Homo sapiens: one gene and its partners. The protein of the gene in region 1 interacts with the protein of each later gene in a pairwise test. Each region holds a gene or a part of one and is shown in the gene's direction. Other genes may lie near its edges.

Region 1 (3,500 bases):
TTTCCCCATTTTTTCACTGGACTCCTATGGATCTCATGTAATACTGCTCTTTACCTTAAAATAACCTACTGTTTAATTCCTACCGATGCAAATTAACCAGCCTCCCTAAAGCCTTTGCTTACAAATGTAGGAACTGTGGCACTCAAATGAGTCAGCAGTTGGTGACTGCCTTATGATTAACAGCAGTTGGTGATGCCTTACCATCACCAACCTATGGAGCTGTAGAATAATTTTCTGATCACTGTTCCTGTCTGGTACTGGCTTCACACATGGAATAGAACAACCACCCCATCTATGACTGGGAACTAAAGCTGATCTATGTTAGCATGCCATTTGCTTTCTTCATTCCTTTCCAGATTTGGGTCTCGCTGTGCTAGAATATTCCGTCTAGTTTTGCAGAAGAAACACATAGAGCAGAAGCAAGTGGAAGACTTTGCAATGATTCCTGCAAAGGAGGCAAAGGATATGCTATATAAGATGCTCTCAGAAAATTTCATGTCACTCCAGGTAACCAACCAAGGGCGTAATAATTGCCAACCAGCAAAGCTGGCCTAGGGTGAGAGAAGCTTCTTAGGCAAACATACTGAACCCCCAAGCAAACTCTATATCCAGCTCTGAGACAGAAAAACATGATTCACAGAGACATAGCGAGCACTTGGAGGATAATTTGGGGCCTTAACTGCCCTAGTGAGAAAGAGGTGGCCGGGCACGGTGGTTCGCGCCTGTAGTCCCAGCACTTTGGGAGGCCAAGGTGGGCAAATCACTTGAGGTCAGGAGTTCGAGACCAGCCTGGCCAACATGGTGAAACTCCGTCTCTAATAAAATACAAAACAATTAGCTGGGCCTGGTGGCACACGCCTATAGTCCCAGCTGCTCGGGAGGCTGAGGCAGGAAGGAGACTCTCTTGAACCCAGGAGGGGGAGGTTGCAGTGAGCCGAGATCAAGCCACTGCACTCTAGCCTGAGCAACAGAGTGAGACTCTGTCTCAAAAAACAAAAAAAACAAAAAACAAAAAAGAGGCAGAGCCAGGACATCACCCCAAACCCACCCTGCCTTTTTTTCTCTTCTCATTTCTGTCCTTCCTTAAGCCTTAATTCTGTTATAGTTTAAATTTATCAACACATCTAACTGAGTCTTTGCAGGGCTATTTAGTAGAGCATATGAGTAAATAGATAGAATGGATTTTTGGAGTCAGATTACAGCTCTGCCTTACCCAGTTACATTAAGCAAGTTACCACGTTTCCCATCTATAAAACAGTGATGGATGGTGATAATAAAAATAATATGGTTGCCAGGTGCGGTGGCTCATGCCTGTAATCCCAGCACTTTGGGAGGCCTAGGCGGACGGATCACTTGAGGTCAGGAATTCGAGAATAGCCTGGCCAACCTGGTGAAACCCTGTCTCTACTAAAAATACAAAAATTAGCTGGGCGTGGTGCCGTGTGTCTGTAATCCCAGCTACTCAGGAGGCTGAGGAAGGAGAATTGCTTGAACCTGGGAGGCAGAGGTTGCAGTGAGCCAACATTGTGCCACTGCACTCCAGCCTGGGCAACAGAGCAAGACTCTGTCTCAAAAATAATAATAATACGACTTTTTGTAAAGATCAAATAGAATTTACCTGGCACATAGAGTTGTTCAGTAAATGTTAGTTGCCCTCCCTTTCTTCCCCAGCTCAGGATGCTGACAGTCAAATGGAAAAAACAGGGAAGCCCAGCTCTCCATTTGACTGATTATGACATAAACCACAAAGACTGGGCCGGGCACACCTGTATTCTCAGCACTTTGGGAAACCAAGGCGGGATGATCACTTGAGCCCAGGAATTCAAGACCAGCCTGGAAAATATAGTGAGACCATGTCTCCACCACCCCCAAAAGATTAAAAAATTAGCGGAGCATGGTGGTGCATGCCTGTAGTTCCGGCTACTTGGGGGACTGAGGTGGGAGGATTGCTTGAGCCGGAGGTGGAAGTTGCAGTGAGCTGATATCATGCCACCGCACTCCATCCTAGGTAACAGAGCAAGACCCAGTCTCAAAATAAATAAATAAAATAAACACAGGTACTGAATGACTAGGAAACAGGAAAGTGTAAGTAAAAAGGAGGGCTAAGTAACTCCAGGTAGAATGAGTGTGTGCTTTGCCAGTTCTAAAACAGTATAATTTCTGCTATTTTTCTTTCTATTGGACAAATAGGAAATTCCCAAAACACCAGACCATGCCCCATCCAGGACCTTCTATTTATATACTGTGAACATCCTGTCAGCTGCCCGAATGTTGTTGCACAGGTGCTACAAGGTAACTCAATCTGGACCTTCTCCCCATTTCCTCCATACGGTCAAGTACCCCTCATGTGCCCACTTCGCCCTGAGCTGCTGAAATAGAACTATGTGCATTCCTTGTCTGTCTTCTCTTTCCTCAGAGCATAGCCAACTTGATAGAAAGGAGGCAATTTGAAACCAAAGAGAATAAGTAAGTAACATTTTCAGTTGAGTTATTTACATCTTTCAAGATCAAGGGCCTCAGGGGAAATTTCCTCTAGAAATAGGAATCAATAGACGCTGGGCCTGGCAGGGTGGCTCATGCCTGTAATCCCAGCACTTCGGGAGGCTGAGGCAGGTGGATCACTTGAGGTCAGGAGTTTGAGACCAACCTGGCCAACATGGTGAAACCCTGTCTTCACTAAAAATACAAAAATTAGCTGGGCATGGTGGCGGGCACCTATAGTCCCAGCTACTCGGGAGGCTAAGGCAGGAGAATCACTTAAACCCAGTGAGTGGAGGTTGCAGTGAACCAAGATCACGCCACTGCACTCCAGCCTGGGCGACAAAGTGAGACTCCATCTCAAAAAAAAAAATTTTTTTTTTGAGAAGTAGGAACCAGTAGAGATAGCAACCAGTCTACTTGCATTGAATCATTGGCTTAGATTAGTGTAAATCATGCATTAGTCTACACTTTTCTAACATGCTCCCAGTGAAATAATTTTTCAGATTAAATTTGTGAGAAACGTACAAAAGCACCAAACTTTTAAGTGCAAATGAGAGGCAATAAGAATTTCAGGAGTGAAGTTATATTTCCAAATAAGTTTGTAGAAAATGTCCTTAGAAGGTGACATTATCTACTTTGATCAGGAAAATGGTAAAGGGTGGTGGGTAGTGCCTCAGACACACGTGGTAAGAGAATCTCCCAGGTTAGGGAAGATGTCTCAGAGTTGTGTTTGTTTGACAGGCGTCTACTAGAAAAATCTCAGAGGGTAGAAGCCATCATTGCATCTATGCAGGCTACTGGTGCAGAGGAAGCACAGTTACAAGAAATAGAGGAGATGATCACAGCTCCTGAACGTCAGCAGCTAGAGACCCTGAAACGTAATGTCAACAAGTAAGCATCATAAACTTCAGACCTGCATTTCAGAATACCATCCAGAAAATCCATTTTGACCTCCTGTAACCCTCCAGCTTAGCATGAGCAAACCTAAACTCACTGTCTCCTCCAGCTCACTTAACAGA
Region 2 (3,500 bases), about 110 Mb from region 1:
GCCAGACAGAACAAGATAGCGTGAAACTTCAACACTACTCAGAATGGCATGCAATTTAAAACTTATGAATTGTTCATTTCTGGAATTTTCTGTGTAATATTTTCAGACCACGGTTGACTGGATAACTAAAATAATAGAAAGCAAAACTGAATAAGGGGAGACTAATGTATAAAGCTTGGCCTCACTTCTCAGCTACTCTAGTATATCCTTGTCAGTTATGCCATAATTTAACATTGGATTGTTCTTTGTTTTCTTTGGTTCAGAGAGTACTCTTAACCACTGTCTCTTTACTTTCAGCTTTTTAAACGGAGAAATGTGGAGCTGATTAATGAAGAAGCTGCCATGTTCGATAGTCTTCTCATGGACTCTTATGTGAGCTCTACCACTGGGGTAAGGCCCCTGCATGTGCCTCAGGCTGACCTGGAAAACACCTGCTTCTAAGGACAGAAATTGGGCCGTTCACATCATCTACCAGCTTTGCCAGTAACCATGACAAGTTCTTTCCTCTGTGGACCCTTTCGTCAGCTTTAGGAGTCAACAAAGATTCAACTTTGTTAGATATATCTGAGGAAACATTTAAGAGAAGCCATCAGTTGCCTCAGAATTAGGAATCACTTTTCAAATGTCCCAACTTGAAGCACCTATAGATTAAACAGACCCCTTCTCCTGAGCCTATTATGCCATCCTCTTGCCCTCAGTTTTTTAGAAAACAGGATGCCAAGCAGTATTATGTGCTCACATCTGGCTCTAATGTTGGTTTGCAAAGTCCTAAACTTGTTTTATGTTCTAGGAGAGTGTGATCACAAGAGAGATGGTGGAGATGCTCTTTTCTGATGATTCTGACCTGCAGTTAGCAACCACACAGAAATTCCGGAAACTGCTCTCCAAAGGTACAAAGCCTGGCCCTTGTCAGAGAGGCCTTATATGATTTAGCCTCTTTTCTCTTCACTGATGTCATCAACTTACACGTGCCCTCACTCATTCTGCTCTAGCCCTACTGACCTTGGTGTTGCTTGTACAAGATAGACACATTGCTACCTTCACACTGGATACTTCCTCTGCCTGATGTCCTCTATTCCCAGATATCTTTGTAGCAACTCCCTTACTCCTATGATTAAATCCCACCTTCAACAGTTTTATCTTTTTACCTTGCCCTACATATTCTCCTCCTCTCCCCCCATTATATTTATCTTCTAACATAATAAAATGACTCTTCCCACTAGGATATAAACTCTCTGAGGGCAGAGACTTTTGTTTTTGTTCCCTCCTGTGTCCTCTGTACCTAGAACTGTGTGGCACACCATAGGTACTTAATAAAAAAATTTAATGTATGATTGGAAAAATACCTCTTGTTTCAGTATATCAAATAGTCTTCCCAAGAAGAGAGTACTGGTCTTTCTTGAAAGGGAAATGTGCAGACCATGGTTGTTCATCCCTTAGGTGGTTCTCTCTCCCACACCTTTCTTTGCTTACATTTAGTAAGCCAAAGATGAACATTCTTAAATTAGGATTGGCTTTACTCTTTAACATTCCAGCTGTATTATACAGTTCAAAGACGAGTAGATATTGTTAAAACCACCTTACCAGAAGGGAGTTTGGGAATGTTTGTAAGGGTGGTCAGAAGTGTCTAAGAAGGATTGCAAGCTGACCCCCATGAAGGGATCAGCAAAAGCTTCTCCTGTGTTTTTATTTTCCCTTCTCCCTTATCCAGAGCCTAGTCCTCCAATAGATGAAGTTATCAACACTCCAAGAGTGGTGGATCGGTTCGTGGAGTTTCTGAAGAGGAATGAGAATTGTACATTACAGGTGAGGCCTGAAGGGAAGGGGTTTGTTTTGTCTTTTAATTTTTGGGGGATACATAGTAGGTATATATATTTATGGGATACATGAGATGTTTTGACACAGGCATGCAATTTGAAATAAGCAAATCATGGAGAATGGGGTATCCATTTCCTCAAGCATTTATCCTTTAAGTTACAAACAATCCAATTATACACTTTAAGTTATTTTAAATTGTGTAGTTATTATTGACTATAGTCACCCTATTGTGTTACCAAATAGTAGGTCTTATTAATTCTTTCTGGGTTTTTTTGTACCCATTACTTATCCCCATCCCACCCCCAGTCCCCCACTACTGGGAAGGGGTTATTAGATGAAAGCCCTACTTCCAAGAAATTGCAGTGGGATACTTCTATTGACATATCTCTCAGGAAGTTCAAAAGTAATGTTAGGAAACATTCAGGAGAAACCATCAGTTCCCTCACAGCCAGAATCTCTTCCTTAAAACAATTTCAAAGGAAAGGCACCAGACTATGATAGACTGATCATTCAGTTATAAATCAGAGGCTATAGTCCACTACCTGTGTGACCTGAGGCAAATTGTTTAGCCTCTCTGGGTCTCTTGTTTCAGAGATGGGTGATGGGTCAATCCATTGGAACTTGCCAGAACTCAGCTGAAAGGGACTTTGAGAGACCCATTTCATTCTAATCCTCATTTCAGAAATGAAGAAAGTGAAGCTCAGGAAATAAAAGAGTGACCTGGCAAAGGATGCATGGGTGTTGTGGTAGTGCAGGACTAAACCTGGGACCCTGGAAGCCCAATGTCTTATTCTCATCTATATCACATCACTGCATCTTCCCACTCTCTAAAGACGGGAGGGGAAAGGCTTGTATTTTATGTGTGTGTGTTTTAAATTCGTGGGCAAGAGGCTTGCTTGTGTTTTGTGAGGTTTTGTTTTGGTTTTTTAAATTCATGGGCAGGAGGCTTACTGTTCTGAGCCAGCTGATAGGCATGGCTGCTCAGTCTGAAATGACCTTTCAATCATTGCTTAATCTCACTTTCAGTTTGAAGCTGCCTGGGCTCTAACGAATATTGCCTCTGGAACCTCTCAGCAGACCAAAATTGTCATTGAAGCAGGGGCTGTCCCCATTTTTATAGAGCTGCTTAATTCAGACTTTGAGGATGTTCAGGAACAGGTAATGCTTAGATTTGGTGTGATTCTTTATAGTACCTGTGGTATAATAAAAAATATATTTGGTCTTTGTCCTGGTTCTTGGCACAGTGTTAAAACTCTTGGAATTTCCTGAGTGATAGGGGTGTCAAGTACAGATGGCCCCTGGGACTTGCAACTGGTATCTCAAGTTGGGGCAGTCTTGTGGGACTAACCTGCGGACTCTGCATTAACTCTAGGTGTTAGAGTCAGAATTGAATTAAATCGTTGGACACATGGTTGGTATCAGAGAATGGGTGGTTGATGTGGAAAAAACTCTATACATTTGTTGTTGGAAGTGCCATTGGAAAAAAGACACCACAGTACCCATATCTGAGTACCCACAAATCATGGAGATAAAGATACAACTTCCATTTCTCCCATTGAATTCTTACTAGTTGGATAGAATTGGAGAGTGGTAGTGGGCTCTTTTATAGACTTGGTCCAAGGCAGCTACAAGAGTGCAACTTTCGCCAGGCGCGGTGGCTCACGCCTATAATCCCAGCACTT
Region 3 (3,500 bases), on another chromosome or scaffold:
TCCAAAGGTGATTCTGATTACCAGGTTTTTTTTTTTTTTTTTTTTTTTTTAAGACAGTCTCACTCTGACACCCGGGCTGGAGTGCAGTGGCATAATCTCAGTCCCCTGAGGCTCAGGTTATCCACCTCAGCCTCCTGAGTAGCTGGGACTACAGGCACATGCTACTATGCAGGCTAATTTTTTTTTTTCCGTAGAGATGGGGTTATGTTATGTTGTCCAGGCTGGTCTCTAACTCCTAGGGCTCAAGCTATCTGCCCACTTCAGCCTCCCAAAGTTCTGGGATTACAGGCATGAGCCACTGCACTTGGGCTGATTACCAATTTTTAAACGACTTTCCTTCTTTGGTTATCAAGTAAAATTCTGGTGGCTGTTCCCTCAGTACTTTTTTTTTTGAGACGGAGTCTCGCTCTGTTTCCAGGCTAGAGTACAGTGGTGCGATCTTGGCTCACTGCAACCTCCGTCTCTTGGGTTCAAGTGATTCTCCTGCCTCAGCCTCCCGAGTAGCTGGGACTACAGGCGCGGGCCACCATGCCCAGCTAATTATTTTTTTTTTGTATTTTTAGTAGACACAGGGTTTCACCATGTTGTCCAGGATGGTCTTGATCTCTTGACCTTGTGATCCGCCTGCCTCGTCCTCCCAAAGTGCTGGGATTACAGGCCTGAGCCACCACCATGCCCGGCCTCAGTACTTTTAATTTTTTTTATTTATGTTTTATTTTTTATTTTTGAGATGGAGTCTCACTCTGTCACCCAGGCTGGAGTGCGGTGGGCGATCTCGGCTCACTGCAACCTCTGCTGCCCAGGTTCAACCAATTCTTCTGCCTCGGCCTCCCGAGTAGCTGGGATAACAGGCACCTGCCACTGCACCTGGCTAATTTTTGCATTTTTAGTAGAGATGGGGTTTCACCATCTTGGCCAGGCTGGTCATGAACTCCTGATCTCGTGATCCACCTGCCTCAGCCTCCCAAAGTGCTGGGATTACAGGTGTGAGCCACTGCGCCCCAGCCCTACTTTTAATTTTTTAAAACATTTTTACTAAATTACAATTTGCATTCATCCACTCCTTTCAAATGTAGCTTTTTTGTTTTGTTTTGCTTTTTGGGGACAGTCTCCTCTGTTGCTCAGGCTGAAGTCCGGTGGCGTGATCATAGCTCACTGTAACCTCGAACTATGCTCAAGTAATCTTCCTGCCTCAGCCTCCCAAAGTGCTGGGATTATAGGCGTGTGCCACCACGCCTGGCCTTAAGCGTACAGTTTGATCTGAAAAATGTATATACCCAAACACCATTTTTAAACCTAAGGGTCATCTAAAGCAATTTATTGAACTCTGAGAACAAGTTTAATTTGAGAACATGATCTGAGAAACCAGAAAGGATAATGGTCCCTCCCCTAATGTAAAAAGTGTCTATGAAGGAATACCACTCTGCTTTGCAACTGAACAATAAAAACATACCAATAATTGAGATGATTAGTTTTGTGTTAAAAGGTGGTTAATGGTTTGAACAGGAGATGAATCACAGACCCTAAAGAGCATCTGGGGCCAGGCATGGTGGCTCACGCCTGTAATCCCAGCACTTTGGGAGGCCAAGGTGGGTGGATCACCTGAGGTCAGGAGTTTGAGACCATGAGACCACCCTGTCGGACATGGTGAAACCCCATCTCTACAACATAAGCTGGGCGTGGTGGCATGTGCCTACAGTCCTAGTTACTCTGGAGGTTGAGGCAGGAGAATCGCTTGAACCCTGGGGGCGGAGGTTGTAGTGAGCAAAGAATGAGCCACTGTACCCCAGCCTGGGTGATAGAGTGAGATTCTGTCTCAAAAAAAAAGAAAAAAAGTGTTTGGTTTCAACTAACTTGTATTGTGACCTTGGGCAAATTAGGTTAACTTCAGTTGCCTCAGTTTCCTCACCTGTAAATTGGGGATAATGGTAGTACTTAAAGTATTAGTGTCAGGATTAGGACAGTGCATGGCAAATAGTAAATGCTCAGTAAATCATAGTTATTAGATCTTTGTGCAGTGAATAGATTGTTGCTACCCCTTTGAAAGGCTGTTTCTGGGGCAGCACTTCTCAAACTTTTTGGTTTCAGGACTCCTGTACGGTCTGCAGACCCTGAAAACCTTTTGTTTATATAGGTTATATCTACCAGTGTATATTGTACACAAAATTAAAAATAAGAAATAAATTTTAAAAAGCCTGTTATACAGTAACAAATAATCATTTTTATGAGAAGTGACATTTCCAGAGCAAAAAAACTACTTTTTTTTTTTTGAGATGGAGTCTCACTCTGTCGTCCAGGCTGGACTGCAGTGGCGTGATCTTGGCTCACTGTAAGCTCCGCCTCCCGGGTTCACGCCATTCTCCTGCCTCAGCCTCCCGAGTAGCTGGGACTAGAGGCGCCCGCCAGCGTGCCCGGCTAATTTTTTGTATTTTTAGTGGAGACGGGCTTTCACCATGCTAGCCAGGATGGATTTTTGTATTTTTAGTAGAGACAGAGTTTCACCATGTTAGCCAGGCTGGTCTTGAACTCCCGACCTCAAGTGATCTGCCTGCCTCGGCCTATCTTCTTTTAAACCAGATACTATGGAGACTTGGAAAAATGTTAAATAATGTCCGAGAGCACATTATTCTACATTTTTACATTTTACATTTTTCTGTATCTCCATAGTATTTGGTTTAAAAGAAGATGAGTACTTTCTCATATCTTTCTATATTCAATCTGTTTTGATATATTGTTTTGGTGGAAGCATCTGAAGAAAATCTAACTTCATCAGATATATAGATGGAAAAAGGAGGAGTATTTTGATCACTTTTTCAGTGGATTTTTTTGATATTATACCAAAACTTTACAAGTAGTAGCTTCTCAAAGCTTAGTTATAATGTGGAATTTGAAACCATATCCATGAACTTTTTGTACCCTGTTATATTAAAATCCATGGGTCTTTTTTTTTTTTGAGATGGAGTCTCGCTCTGTCCCCAGGGTGGAGTGCAGTGATGCAATCTTGGCTCACTGCAGCCTCTGCCTCCCGGGTTCAAGCAATTCTCCTGCCTCAGCCTCCTGAGTAGCTGGGACCACAGGCATGTGCTGCCACTCCTGGCTAATTTTTGTATTTTTAGTAGAGACGGGGTTTCACCACATTGGCCAGGATGGTCTCGATCTCCTGAGCTCGTGGTCCGCCCGTGTCGGCCTCCCAAAGTGCTGGGATTACAGGTGTGAGCCACCACACCCAGCCCCATGGGTTTCTTTTATACTTTGAATGATTCTTCTACAAGTGCATGACTTTGTAACAGCACCCATTGGCTATTTGGAAAATGTTCACTGAGTGATGTAGATCTTTAGTGGAAACAATTGACAATTCATTATACAGCATAAAAAATTATATTTGTTAGGGCTGGGCGTGACGGCTCACACCTGTAATCCCAGCACTTTGGGAACCTGAGGCGGGCAGATCATTTGAGGTCAGGAGTTTGAGACCAGCCTGGCCAACATGGTGAAACCCC
Region 4 (3,983 bases), on another chromosome or scaffold:
AAAATGAATATTTTACTTGTAAAACAAGTAGAATCAATTATTTTATTAGTAAATTCATACAGAACCTAAAAATAAAACTAAAAAAATTAAATGACTGAGGATTGGGATCCATTTATGTGATTTTGCCAAATAAATATTGAGAACCTTCTACGTAAGAGATTAGAACCCAGTCGCTGAGAAACAAATAAAAGACAAGTTTGACAAGTTTTATAACCCAAGTTTGACTACTGTAGCAGCTAGCAATCCATCGTGATCTTAACTATACTTGTGTTTGCATTCATATTACTGGAAAGTGGTAAAGAACCAAAAACTGTCTAGGAACCAAAATAACACTCGACCCGAAAACCAACACTTGGACCTGAAGAAAGTAACCCTTGTCATTTCTCAGGTTTATTTCACAATGACGCTGGGTTACTACTTGGAGTCCTAAACCGAACTACACCCCAATGGCCTAGAAACAGAAGGAACACACCCAGTTCCGCCTCCTGACAGTGATTCCTCACTTTAATGAGCCACCACTACTGTCACTCAAGATGCTTCGCACTGTCATTGGTCGCAAACTCTTGCTGGTCGGCCAGTTTCGGCCAACTGGCAAGCACTGGTTGTCTTTATTTTCGAGAAAAGTGAAGGTGAACAGGGAAAAGAGACAAGAGATCTAAAATATCTAGGTTGACTCCTGTACCTGAGCGACCTGCGATCTCCACCGCCGCCGCGACGAATTGGCCTCTGGGCGGGGACTTTTAGCCAAAAGGAAAATGGCTCAGCCGGGAACTGGTGCCCAGGCCATGGAGAAGCTGATTCAAACTTTACTTGTCCACACCGGTAGAGGTGACCGCGATGAGAATACCAGAAACAGCACTACGACCCTCAGAACTCAGGGTACCTCCAGCTGCAGGGGCCAGAACTGCCGACTATCCCAATTTTGACGTTTCCTATTGTTGCCGGAAGTGACGTTAGGCTCCGACTCTTAACGGAGACGCATTTTTATTTCTGTTGTTTACGATTCGCTATAGATTCCTTGTTTCTCACTTCGTAGCACGAGCCACTCTGACCATCAAGATCAGAAAAACTTCTCAGCTGCAAGTTAGAAGTGGACTGGCCATTGAGGAGGCTCTCAGCGGAGTCGCTCTTCACAGGAGTCTTGAACGCGGTGTGGAATCGGCAGCGAGGAATCCTGGAGCACAGAGAAGCTCCCAGCTTTGAAGGTCTTGCGGTGGTGCGTGGCGGGCAGGAACCCACAATTCCAAATACAAACGGTCGGCGCGAGAAGCGCTTCTGGGCGCAGGCGCCTGGCTGTAGCGACTGGTTGCGGGAGGCTGGACTCTGGTGACTGTGTATGGTTGCATATGCTCCGTTTTCCTCTCCCTGTCGTGCTGGGCCTTTGAAACCGGCTTCTTTGCTGGTGGCTGCTTGGTGAGCCCCGAGGAGACGGCAAGGCTGCGCCTGGTATTGGGCGGAGGTCGCCTCTCTCCGCCGTCCTTACAGAGACCCCGGGCGGAGACGAATGACCAGATCCGCCTTTTCATTCTTTTAAATCAAATGGCGGGAGGGGAGCCTTGCTTATATACCCAACTAGTATATGCTTTTAGTCACAACGAAGTGGGAAGTATCGTGGTAGCTCATCCTATCAGAATTAGGTTGTGACTTAGGGTTGGAAAGTTATAGGCTTACTGATTCCTATTGGATCCTCTGGGGTGAGGATACAAACGGCTCCTGACTATAAGGAAGACAGGACAGCAGTTCGTGTTTTCCTTGTTGGCATTTCCCCAGCTTTTCAAATATTTCTCCACCTTTATTGAAGGCTACAGATTTTTCCCTCACTGTAACAAGTTAATCTTGAAGTTGTTATTCTCTTTTACTCTGGAATTATGGCCATGCTAGACTGTTTTTTTCCCGAATTATCTGCAGACCTTTTAATTTTATGTGTGAACACAGCAGTCCCGTTGAACTCTTTACTTGTCCCTTACTCCTCCCCACTCCCGCCCAGCTTTCTCGATGCTTTGCCTTTCTCAGACCTTTCTCCTATCTCTTAGAGAAGTATTTCCCTAATATCTTTTGCAGTTTCATAAACTGTTTTTCTCATCTTTACTTTTTTGTTTTTGATACGTGTTTTTAGATAATATCGAGCATTATGTGCTATGTCACAAACTCTTAGCCATTGACTGTTATTAGAGTCAGTGTAGTTGCTTCATTCTAAACAAAAATCACTCTGGTCCAGTGACATTCTATTGGGAGGCATTGTTTTAATGACCTCTAACAGCAATGAGATTGAGCGATGTTGAAAATCCTAAACTGCTAGAGTACACTATTTTCACAACCTCTCCCACAAGTTCAATTGCGCAGATCTGACTTGTAGACAAGGAAGGAAGCTAGAAAGGAATATTGAGAGCTTCTTTATTATTGAATCTATGCTGCAAGCTGAGTGGTATCTCCTTTTTTCCTTAGTTTGCCTTTGATCAGTGCTATAAGTTGAAAATGTTAAATTTTTAAAAGTATTTTTCATTAATGAAAGTAAGGTGTTAAAATGTACATAAGTAATAGATTGGCTTCTTTTAATGTCTTGTTTTTAAGGCTTTTGAATTTTATAGTAGACTTAGTAAAGCCCTTTGTGAGAATGTAGAGCAGTAGCTGTAATTTTATTCTGTGATAATCCCAATTTTAAATCCCTTTATTTTTCTGTCTCCTATCACTTACCTCGTTCACGAGCTCTGCTTGTATTACTCTTCAAAATATTTATTCACTGGTACTGAAGAGAGACATAACTTTGTTGTCAGAAATTCCATTATCAGAGGTAGAAATCATGTAAGAGACACTGAAATGTTTTCCAAAATGTCAGAAAAAGGAAAGGTGAGAAGATATCATAAAGTGTTACGTAAAACAGAATTACTTGCACTGGGAAAATGGAATATACATCTGGAAGGACTAAAGGAAGTCTGGAAAGACATAGAATTTACATTAAAGTTACTGGGAAGAAGGTATCCCTAGAAGAATTGTGTTACGATAGATGGGTCTGGAACCCGAAAGAAGCTCAGACCTACTATATTGGCCAGTGGCAAAATCCAAGAATACATTTTTTGCGGTTAAAGCCAGAGTAGTCCTCACTTCATGTTTTTCAGGAAAGTAAAGGCTTATCTTGGGAAATCCCTTTTAGGCTTCCGTGTGTCCATCTACCCCCAGTCAGTCTAAAGGATATTAAATAGGGTTTACCTTCTTGGCCAGTGTTTTGTATAATGTGATTTCAGGATGACTTTCTCTTTTTCTAGTTATCTCCCATTTGACAGTACCTAAAATTATCTCTGTCTAGAAATGTAAATGTTTAGTTGAAGTAATTTATTGGCTGAAAAATAGTGACTAAAATGTGCATGCACAAGTCTATAAAGTATATTCAATAAGCTGTTGCCTACCATGTTGATAAAGGAGACTAGGAACAGAAAGGTAGGTTCATAAAGAGGGAGCAGTTGCTCTACCCTGGGGAAATGGCTGTGGAAATGAGTGGCGAGGGGCTTAAAGTAGGAAGCTTACTAAATTTAGGATTTTGTAAATCGGTGACCTTCTTACCTTTCCTTATTTAAAGATAGAGAAACGGTGTGTAAAGGGATGATTTGTATCCTGGACAGCTGGGTAATGCGAATTGGAGGAAAAGATCACACTAACCCAGCTTCACCTGATTTATGAATTGTTCTGTTTTCATTTTAATATAATGACTTCATTTTAATGTGATAACTTCATTTTAAAGGAGCTTCATTCTCAAAGGGTTCATTACTCAAGGTATTGTTATGTATTACTTTTCTTCTATGAAGTGTCCATGGACAGTTGTGGTAGATGTTTTTATGTAAGTTATTGAGTTTCACGTTACTGGCTGACTAGACTTTTATAGTTCAGAAACTTACCTCCTTCCAGCAAAGGTTCTTAATCGTTTATATACCTATTTATGACTCTTCTTTGGGAAAAATCTCCTTTGATAATCTAATGAAAGTCCCACT
Region 5 (3,500 bases), on another chromosome or scaffold:
CAAACAAGTCATTACAAAAGTCCATTAAGTATCAGATTTTGGATATTTGTTTAACATCAAAAGCCAAGAATAAATAAGTCACAAACAAATCAAGTCACAATGGGAAAAAAAGTGAACAAAATCTACTGTTTTCTTAGGGACAAATGATGATGATGATGGTGATGGTGATGATGAAGAAAAATCATATAACTTCTTTGTTAGGAGAAAATAATGTGAAAAATAAGAGAAAATTAAATCAAAAGTAGAGCTAAGTATTTGCAACACATATGCATAAAGATTATCATTGTCACTGATAATAAATGCATTGCAATTAAAGTAATAATCCAACGTACAGGGATTGTTTTAACAAGATGGTTGAAAGGAAAAGCCCTATAAAGGCGTCTCTGGCAGCAGGTGTTATACATAAAACCTTCGGCACAGAAACAATAGGTAATGAAATCTGGAAGTTTACTGACTGTGCCAAACAGTATCCAAATATAATTTCAACTGTTGTAAGTTTGTAAGTGGTTGTACATTTTGTATTACTATAAAAAGTTTACAACCATCAATCTTTCATGGCACACCTGTAGCCCATTCTGCCATGGCCTCTAGTGGGGAGCTCAGCTTTAGAGAGCAATGAAAGGCAGAAGAGGATTGAGTGGTAATATGCATACTACAAACAATATTTGATGATATCCAAGTTTTCTAGGAAGGCCTATGGCACAGTATGAAAAACCCTGGGGAAGTATAGGGTTTAAGCAGATGAAAGAAGAAGGGCACTTCAAGTAAGCCGGCTAGAATTAGCAAAATACTGAGGGGAAGAGAGAAAAGAAGGATAGATTACTGTTAACAGTGGGCGAGACAGTGTTAAGCTTTGGATATATAATTTTTTTTTTTGGAAAGTGGCCAGAGCAGACTGTATAGGAAATTTGTGTTGGTAAAGAGTAGCGGAAAATTTTTAGTTTAGAATTATAGGTACAAATCATAGAAAACCTTGAAAGTCAGGATATGATTGTCATTTTGTGAGCAGTGCTCTCTGACTATAAAAAGCAACTTGGAAGATAGATCTGGACACACTGAACAGGACAGGCCAGAGAATGACCTGAGACAGGGAGACTAGTCAGGAGGCTGCACAATAGGTGATAAGGGGCTGAGCCAGAGACACAGGAGTAGAAATAGAAAGGGATTAATTGAAGACACATTTCAAAGGAAATAGTGGGATTTAGTGAGATTCAGCAGACTGAAGAAAATGGATGACTCTCAGACTTTGAGGCCAAAGGACTGAGAGATTAGTGGTATCATGTTCAGAGAAGAACCTGGGAGAGAGATTTAGTTGGGAGATGGACAATGGATTCTAGTGAAGTGTCCTGGAGGCAATGGGAAGTATGAAATAGAAGCACAAGGCGAGAGGTCAAAGATGGGAAAACAAGTGCAATCCACACAGTTTTGTCGTAGATAAAGCCGTGAAGAGGCTGCGAGCTCTCCAAGAAGAGCAACAGAAAGAATGCTGAAGACCTGAGTTGGGGGAAGATTGCTAACTCTTCCTCAGAGCAAGGAAGGAGGAAGAGGAATTATGGAAGGAGGCAAAGGAGCAATGCTGAGGAAAATAGACACACAAGAATGGCGTATGCTATCAAAGGAAGAGAAAGTCTCAAGAAGGAAAGAATTGTCATGTCTAGCAGGCCACCTCCCATGTCAGACTATGTGTATTCAAATCCTGCCTCTGTCACTTATTATATGTCATTGCAAAAGTTCTGTTATCTTTTCTAGTTTCATTATCTGTGAAATAATGCTAATATATTCTACCCCATAGGGATATTTTGAGGATTACTTGAGAAAAATGTATGGTCCTGTACTTAGCACAGTACTGGTCCTGTTATGAGTGCACCTGGCACTTACAATAAATTAATAGATATAATTGATAACTTTTAAGGGAAAAATAGAATGATGAGAAGAGAAAAAAAAACTGCAAGAGGTTAAAGAAGGACCAACCCCTGAGAAAGACAATGGGTATGGAAAACTTACAAGAGATTCCTTGCCCCAAAATGAAAAGAGCTTGCAGACCAATTGTTAGAAACAGCAATGGGATGAAGTAAAGGCTTTACTTAAGTTTGCTCTATACTGACTAAGGGTTAACATTGTTACTGTTGTCATGGAAGCTTCCTTAATTAGGATTGGGGCATCTTTTCGTTTACACGAGATTATCTGAGACTCCAGGAGAGAAATTAAACAATTGCACAACCAAAAGATCCTGTCAAAATACATGGACACAGAAAATGGTGCAGCCGCTGTGGAAAACAGTGTGGCAGTTCCTCAAAAAATTAAAATACAATTACCATATGATCCATCCATTCCACTTCTGGGTATATATACCCAACACAATTTAAAGCAAGGACTTGAACACATATTTGTATACCTATGTTCATAGCAGCATTATTCACAATAGCTAAAATGTGGAAATGATCCGACTGTCCATTGACCTATGAATGGATAAAATTGTGGTACATCTAGCAAAATAGTATTCAGCCTTAAGAACAAGGAAATTCTCAGCTTGGGGCCAGTGGTGCAATGGGTAACACATCTGACTATGGATCCAAAAAAAAGGAAATTCTGACACATGCTACCACATGAATGAACCTGAAGACATTGTGCTAAGCGAAATAAACCACACACAAAGGGACAAATATTATATGCCATATGATTTTATATGATAGTCAAATTCATGAAGATAGAAGAATGGTGGTTGCCAGGAGCTGTGGGGAAGGAGAATAGGGAGTTAGTACTTAATGGGTACAGAGTTTCAGCTAGTGAAGATGAAAAAGTTCTGGAGATGGCTGGTGGTGATTGTGGCACAACAATGTGAATGTACTTAATGACACTGAACTGTACATTTAAAATGGTAAATTGTATGTATTTTTAACACAGTAAAAGAATATATATATGTGCAGACAACATGAGCAAATAAGGCACTGCTCTTTGATAGATAAAATGGGTTGAAAAGTCATCAGAAACAACTTATAAGAGTAACTTTTTAAATGATGAAATATTTCATACTGACAAAATTAAATACATGATGTAAGTAGAAGTATAAAAATAATGAAACAAGCATCTAGACAGCAACCATCCAGCTTAAAACATAGAGCATTACTAATAGTACTGAGACCCTTGTTGTATTTCCCTAATAACATCCCTCTCCATCCTCTCCCTCCTCCACCAGGGGTAACCACCATTCTGAATTTGTATTTATCATTCCTTACTCTTTATTATAATATTATAACATATATATGTCACCAGAAACAATATATTGCTTTTCCACCTAGCATGGTGAGACTCCTCCATGGTGATGTCTGTGGCATACTCATTGAGAATTGTTGTTATTGTCTTAACAATTGAAGCTTTTTATCATTTTATCAAAAACAATTGAAGCTTTCGTCACTCTTTTTTCCTAATAGTGCATTTTGCCTTAAAGTATCTTTTGTCTGGCATGAGTATGTCTACCTTAACTTTTATTGGTTATTCTT
Region 6 (3,500 bases), on another chromosome or scaffold:
AGATACAATATTAAATCATAACTGCATGAAATTAACTGTAGTATGTTACTGTACTACTATAATAATTTTATAGCCGTCTCCTGTTGCTGTATTGGTGAGCTCAGCTGTTGTGAGTATCCACTTAAAAAGCTGTGGGGGGCTAATTACCTTTGAAAGAGCAGTTTGTCTCTTCAGCGATGCGTATCTCAGTAAAAAGTTCTCTCTCATGGTTCTGCCTTATTTTTCATCATGTTTACTGCAATATCATAAACCTTGAATAATACCATGGGACCCATACAAAGTGCCACCGGTGATGGTGCTAGGAAGTGCTTCAACGAAGCAGAGAAGAGTCATGACATTACAAGAAAAAGCTGAATTGCTTGAGATATACCATGGATTGAGGTCTGCTGCTGCACTTGCCCACCATTTCAAAATAAATGAATCCAGGGTAGGGATCATTGTAAAAAGGAAAAAGGAAATTCATGAAGCCGTCCCTGCAGCCATCCCAGCAGTTTTGAAAACTTCACACTTTTTGTGAAATCCCTTTTTATCTTGTGTTGAACATGCAGCTTTTATGTGGGTGCAGGATTTTTGTTTTTGAGACAGAATCTCACTCTTGTCGCCCAGGCTGGAGTGCAACAGCGTGATCTCAGATCACTGCAACCTCCGCCTCCCAGATTCAAACGATTCTCATGCCTCAGCTTCCTGAGTAGCTGGGATTACAGGGATGTGCCACCACACCTGGCTAATTTTTAAATTTTTATTATTTTTATTATTTTTGACTTTTTGGTTTTGGTTTTTGGTGGGTGCAGGATTGCTGTAAGAAAGGCATACCTGTCAACTCTAATATGATTTGAGAAAAAGGAAAGTCATTATGTGACAACCTGAAGCAAAAGGAAGGTGAAGGATCTAAAGCTGGAGAATTTCCTCAGCCTACTCAAGCAAAGGATGACTTGATAATTTTGGAAAGGGGTTTGGCTCAAAAAATGTCAAGATAACAGGAGAACACTTCTGTCAACCAAGGGGCCAGCAGATGAGCTCCCAGATGCCATGAAGAAAGTTGTTGAGGAGAATGGATATCTGCCTGAACAAGTTTTTAATGCAGACAAATGTGCCACCAGGGACATTTATTAGGAAGATAAGCAAGCACCAGAATTTAAGGCAGAAAGGGATAAGCTAACTCTACTATTTTGTGCAAATGCAGTTGGGTTTATGATTTGGACTGCTCTTATCTAAAAAGTTGCTAACCCCCAATCCTTGAAGGGAAAATATAAATACCAGCTGCCAGTCTTTTGACTGTATAACAAGAAGGCCTAGACAAGAAATCTTTTCCCGGACTGGTTCCATCTATGCTTCAGGTTCAGGAAGTACCATGCCAGTAAGGGACTGCTTTTTATTTTGATATTGGACAGTGCCCTTGGCCACCCAGAACCCCATGAGTTCAACACCAAAGGCATAGAAGTGGTCTACTTGCCCCTAAACACAATGTATCTAATTCAGCCTCTAGATCAGTGACCATAGGAACCTTAAAGTTTCATTATACATGGCACTCTATGGAAAAAATTGCCAGTGCTATGGAAGAGAATCTCAACAGAGAAAACATGAAAGTCTGGATGGATTACACCATTGAATATATCATTGTTATAGAAAAAGCTATGAAAGTCATCAAACCCAAAACAATAAATTCCTGCTGGAAAAAAACTGTGTTCAGATGTTGTGTATGACTTCACAGGAGTTATGACAGAGCCAGTCAAAGAAATCATGAAAGAGATCATGGATGTGGCTATAAAGGTTGATGGTGAAGGGTTTCAAGGTATGGATCTTGGAGAAATTCAAGAGCTAATAGATACCAAACCAGAGAAATTAACAGAACATGACTCGACGGAGATGAGTGCTTCTTAACCACTGCCAGACAATGAAGAAGATGTAGAAGCAATGTCAGAAAACAAATTGACATTAGACAGTCTGGCAAAAGGGTTTGGTTATTCAAGACTGTTTATGACTTACTTTATGAAATGGGCCCTTCTATGATATGTGCACTGTAACTGAAGAAAGTAGTGGAAAGACGATTGGTATTATGTGGAAACATTTTTAGAGAAATGAAAAAAACAAAAAAGTCAGACAGGAATTAACAGTGTATTTCCTTAAAGTTGCACCAAGTGTGTCTGCCTCTCCTGTTTCCCCTGCCTTCCCTTCCACCTCCTCCACCTCTTCTGCCTCTGCCACCCCTGAAACAACAAGACCAACCTCTCCTCTTTCTCCTCCTCCTCAGCCTGCTCAATGTGAAGAGACAAGGATGAAGACCTTGATGATGATCCACTTCCCCTTAATGAATAGTAAATATAGTTCCTCTTCCTTATGACTTTTTAAATAACATTTCCTTTTCTGTAGCTTACTTTAAGAATACAATATATAACACATAACATGTTATGACATACATAACATATATTACATGTAAAATATGTGTTAATTGACTGTATCAGTAAGGCGTTTGGTCAACTGTAAGCTATTAGTAATTAAATTATGCGGGAGTAAAAAATTATACATGGGTTTTTGACTGCGTGGAGGGTCAGCACCCCTGACCCCCATGTCGGTTCAAGGGTCAACTGTATATTTAAACTATATAATTTTATTACTTTTGACAGAGTATATACCCATGAAACCATCACCACAATCAAGATAATGAACATATCCATCATGCTCAAAAGTTTCTGTGTTCCCTTTTGAGTATATTTTCCAAATTGTAACTACAAAGAGGAAAAGACTAGTTCTGGATTAAATAGTCTTATATTTAACTAGCCCATAACTAAACAGAGTTTTCACTGTCATTTAGATTCAAATGATAATACTACTAAAGTTTAAGAAAGAGATTCTGAAACATGATTTGTACAGTTCCTCCTGCCTTCGTATTATAATGAAGAATTGAGTGTTTTCTCAGAGATACAGAGTGCTGCCTGTGACTTCTTTTTTCTCTCTTCATTTCTTTGCTCAGGGGTCACAGTTATTGATAAACCATTATGAGCCTGAAGGACATTTTCAGCATATTTATACATGAGAAACAGCCTTCAACAAGTATTTGTGAAGTGACTGAGAATCTAGCACTTCTCCACTTGTAGCTGCACTTTAAGTCTCAGCAGAAGATACGATCGTCTGCCTTTATAGGCCTCAGATACTGAAGATTATTTTTGGTAGAAGCACCGTGTAGGCTTTTTCTGCAATGAGCAGCAGCTGACTGAATTTTCATAAGAAACTTGGACTGCAGGACTTAATCTGTAGTCTTTAGACAACAGTTGCTTTCATAAAGACTAGTTCTTATCAACCTTGAATGACTACAGATTATTTTGTGAAGGAGGATGAAGTAATGTGTGTTCTTGTAAAATTAAATTTTATCTTTATTTCTTCTAAAAATCTGTATACCAGGAACTGAAAATCTTTGAACAGATATTAAAATCTACGTAAGTATACAAACTAGTTGAGGGATACACTGTTTGCTTTTATAAAATAACTTTGATTACATGAAT
Region 7 (2,330 bases), 140 kb from region 1:
ACTCTCAGGAACAGTCCTGTTCTGGGTCTCTGAAGGGATAAAACTTTGACCCTTCCACCCCTCAGATGTGGAGCGTTATTCAGACAAATATCAGATGTCAGGTCCGATTGACAATGCCATCGATTGGAACCCTGGTAGGTGATGGGCCCTTTCATTGACTGCCCTTCTTTCAAATGCATGGGATGCTTCAAGCTATTCCCACCACGCCCATGACCCCACCCCATTCCCCGATCCAGCATCTGCAAGCTAGAGCCTTAGTTATGGTCCAACACATTCTCAGATTCTACCTGAAAAAGCTATTAAATAGTTCCCACTACTCAGGAGATATCCAAGCCACTGAACAACTTTGGCCCAGCCCCTTCCTTCCTCTCCTTTAAAACCCTCACCCCCCTTTAAAACCAGTCAGTATTCACTGGAGACCCCAGGCAGGGTCCTATTGACATTTACGTTCCCACTATTCCCAGATTGGCGGCGTCTACCCCGGGAGCTAAAGATCCGAGTGCGGAAGCTACAGAAGGAACGTGAGTGTATCTGGAAAAAAGGAGGGAGAAGAGAGGTTTCCTTCATCAGCCTGAGGGCCGAGGCTGCTGCTGGTCTCACCTTCCATCCCAGTTCCTATACCCAATCTACCAAGTGTTGTTGCTAGATGTCATAGTGGCCACATGAGGGCAGCAGAGTGACATGTTCTTTGCATGAGGATGGGCTATAAAGCTGGCAAAATTTGCTCTCTGAAGGTTTACCTTTTGATCCCTCCACCAGGGATTACAATTCTGCTCCCCAAGAGGCCCCCTAAGACCACAGAAGATAAGGAGGAAACAATACAGAAACTAGAGGTGAGGAGGAAGTGTGCATAGAGACCTCCTGAGCCCTGGATCCATTCCCTCTCTCTTGGCCCATGTGTGCCTCAATTTTTCCCTTCTGTGAACTGAACCTGAGTTTCTATTCCTATTCATCCCCACATGAGACCCTGGAGAAGAAGGAAGAAGAAGTAACTTCAGAGGAGGATGAGGAGAAAGAAGAAGAAGAAGAGAAGGAAGAGGAGGAAGAAGAAGAGTATGATGAAGAAGAACATGAAGAGGTGAAGGGGACTCCTTCCACCTTAGTCCCCCTCCCTTTACCCTCTTTATACTAGGGTTGCTCTCCTCAGAGGGTTGGCATGCCAACAGAGATAGTGCCCCCCAGGGTAGGGGCTTCTCTCTACTTCATCTGCCCCCCTTCTACAAACTACAGCTGGAAGAGATGTCTCAGGCCTGGAATGGTGTGACTGAGAGGAAAGGGGTCTGGTACACAGGAAGGAAGGTGAATGCCAAATTGACTTTTACTTTTTTTTTTTCCATTTCAGGAAACTGATTACATCATGTCATATTTTGACAATGGAGAGGACTTTGGTGGTGACAGTGATGACAATATGGACGAGGCTATATACTGAAGAAGGACTCTGGACCCTCGTGTCTTTCTTTAGGATACAGAGAGTAACTGTACCTATTATTTGTTTCTTCAGACAAGCAAATCATTTGGTCAGAGTTCATATAATCTGTCTGTTCCCTGGAGATGGGAATAGAGGATGATGACAGTTTATTTTCTACACTTCCCCTCCTTCCACATTTGTATCACCTTTGCTATCTTGGGGAAAGTGCAAAGGACAAACATCTCAATTGTATGAAGGGAGAAAGGAGAATTGAAAGAAGAACTGGGGTTGTTAGAGCTGAGATGACTGTACACATACCCCTGCCCAATTTATATAGCTCTTTGTGGAGATAATTAGGGGTGGGAGCAGTTTGAAGGAGTAAGCCTGGTTTTATACTTTTAAATAAAGTGTTTTTATCTGTCTCTCTGTTGTGGGTGAGGCCTGGTGACAGAGGGCTGGAGGAATGAAGGAAATGCTTAACTAAGCCGGGTCTGGTGTGACACACTGGAGGGTTACAGCCCTACAGCCCGCTTGTCCTTTGTCCCTTCCCTTCTACCCCCATGGTGGGACACATATTCACAATCGAGCCCAGCCAAGGAATATTCAAGGCCTCATCTGTAGGGCAATGCAAAGTAAATTGTAGAGAACAGCCTACGCCCCCTGCAGTACAGCTGACTTCTGAGCCTCTGGTCCTCAGGCCACAAGGACATGATTGTGTCTGTTCACACATGTTCACAAGGACATAGGTCCTGTCTTTCCCACACTTGACCTTGATCTTGTCCTTATTTACAAAAAATGATTACAGCTATTTTTGTGGGGAAAGGCAAGAAAACCAGGTATGAGGAGGGAGGAGGAGCTGACTTATTCACCATACTCCCTCCTCTTCCAGACTCTGGAGATGCCACTTTGAAAGGTATGTCTG

Evidence for each region.
Region 2: the proteins of POLR3C (region 1) and KPNA6 interact in binary tests that used the Homo sapiens proteins (3 or more experiments, as listed by UniProt).
Region 3: the proteins of POLR3C (region 1) and VRTN interact in binary tests that used the Homo sapiens proteins (3 or more experiments, as listed by UniProt).
Region 4: the proteins of POLR3C (region 1) and CEP44 interact in binary tests that used the Homo sapiens proteins (3 or more experiments, as listed by UniProt).
Region 5: the proteins of POLR3C (region 1) and ROPN1 interact in binary tests that used the Homo sapiens proteins (3 or more experiments, as listed by UniProt).
Region 6: the proteins of POLR3C (region 1) and KLHL2 interact in binary tests that used the Homo sapiens proteins (3 or more experiments, as listed by UniProt).
Region 7: the proteins of POLR3C (region 1) and POLR3GL interact in binary tests that used the Homo sapiens proteins (3 or more experiments, as listed by UniProt).

Annotation. Positions count from the first base shown.
Region 1 is NC_000001.11:145,837,700-145,841,199, forward strand, and holds part of POLR3C (DNA-directed RNA polymerase III subunit RPC3), read left to right. Parts: intron 1-356; coding exon 357-507; intron 508-2,190; coding exon 2,191-2,292; intron 2,293-2,416; coding exon 2,417-2,466; intron 2,467-3,222; coding exon 3,223-3,372; intron 3,373-3,500. UniProt on the Homo sapiens protein: DNA-dependent RNA polymerase catalyzes the transcription of DNA into RNA using the four ribonucleoside triphosphates as substrates.
Region 2 is NC_000001.11:32,156,556-32,160,055, forward strand, and holds part of KPNA6 (importin subunit alpha-7), read left to right. Parts: intron 1-297; coding exon 298-390; intron 391-790; coding exon 791-890; intron 891-1,711; coding exon 1,712-1,806; intron 1,807-2,844; coding exon 2,845-2,976; intron 2,977-3,500. UniProt on the Homo sapiens protein: Functions in nuclear protein import as an adapter protein for nuclear receptor KPNB1. Binds specifically and directly to substrates containing either a simple or bipartite NLS motif.
Region 3 is NC_000014.9:74,351,471-74,354,970, forward strand, and holds part of VRTN (vertnin), read left to right. Parts: intron 1-3,500. UniProt on the Homo sapiens protein: Acts as a transcription factor that regulates development of thoracic vertebrae.
Region 4 is NC_000004.12:174,282,728-174,286,710, forward strand, and holds the start of CEP44 (centrosomal protein of 44 kDa), read left to right. Parts: upstream 1-1,183; 5' UTR 1,184-1,216; exon of another isoform or gene 1,217-1,413; intron 1,414-3,983. UniProt on the Homo sapiens protein: Centriole-enriched microtubule-binding protein involved in centriole biogenesis. In collaboration with CEP295 and POC1B, is required for the centriole-to-centrosome conversion by ensuring the formation of bona fide centriole wall.
Region 5 is NC_000003.12:123,982,125-123,985,624, reverse strand, and holds part of ROPN1 (ropporin-1A), read left to right. Parts: intron 1-3,500. UniProt on the Homo sapiens protein: Important for male fertility. With ROPN1L, involved in fibrous sheath integrity and sperm motility, plays a role in PKA-dependent signaling processes required for spermatozoa capacitation.
Region 6 is NC_000004.12:165,319,061-165,322,560, forward strand, and holds part of KLHL2 (kelch-like protein 2), read left to right. Parts: intron 1-2,251; coding exon of another isoform or gene 2,252-2,265; exon of another isoform or gene 2,266-2,291; intron 2,292-2,971; coding exon 2,972-3,000; 3' UTR 3,001-3,500. UniProt on the Homo sapiens protein: Substrate-specific adapter of a BCR (BTB-CUL3-RBX1) E3 ubiquitin ligase complex that mediates the ubiquitination of target proteins, such as NPTXR, WNK1, WNK3 and WNK4, leading most often to their proteasomal degradation.
Region 7 is NC_000001.11:145,977,019-145,979,348, forward strand, and holds the end of POLR3GL (DNA-directed RNA polymerase III subunit RPC7-like), read left to right. Parts: intron 1-65; coding exon 66-134; intron 135-464; coding exon 465-521; intron 522-759; coding exon 760-833; intron 834-964; coding exon 965-1,078; intron 1,079-1,342; coding exon 1,343-1,429; 3' UTR 1,430-1,830; downstream 1,831-2,330. UniProt on the Homo sapiens protein: DNA-dependent RNA polymerase catalyzes the transcription of DNA into RNA using the four ribonucleoside triphosphates as substrates. Specific peripheric component of RNA polymerase III which synthesizes small RNAs, such as 5S rRNA and tRNAs.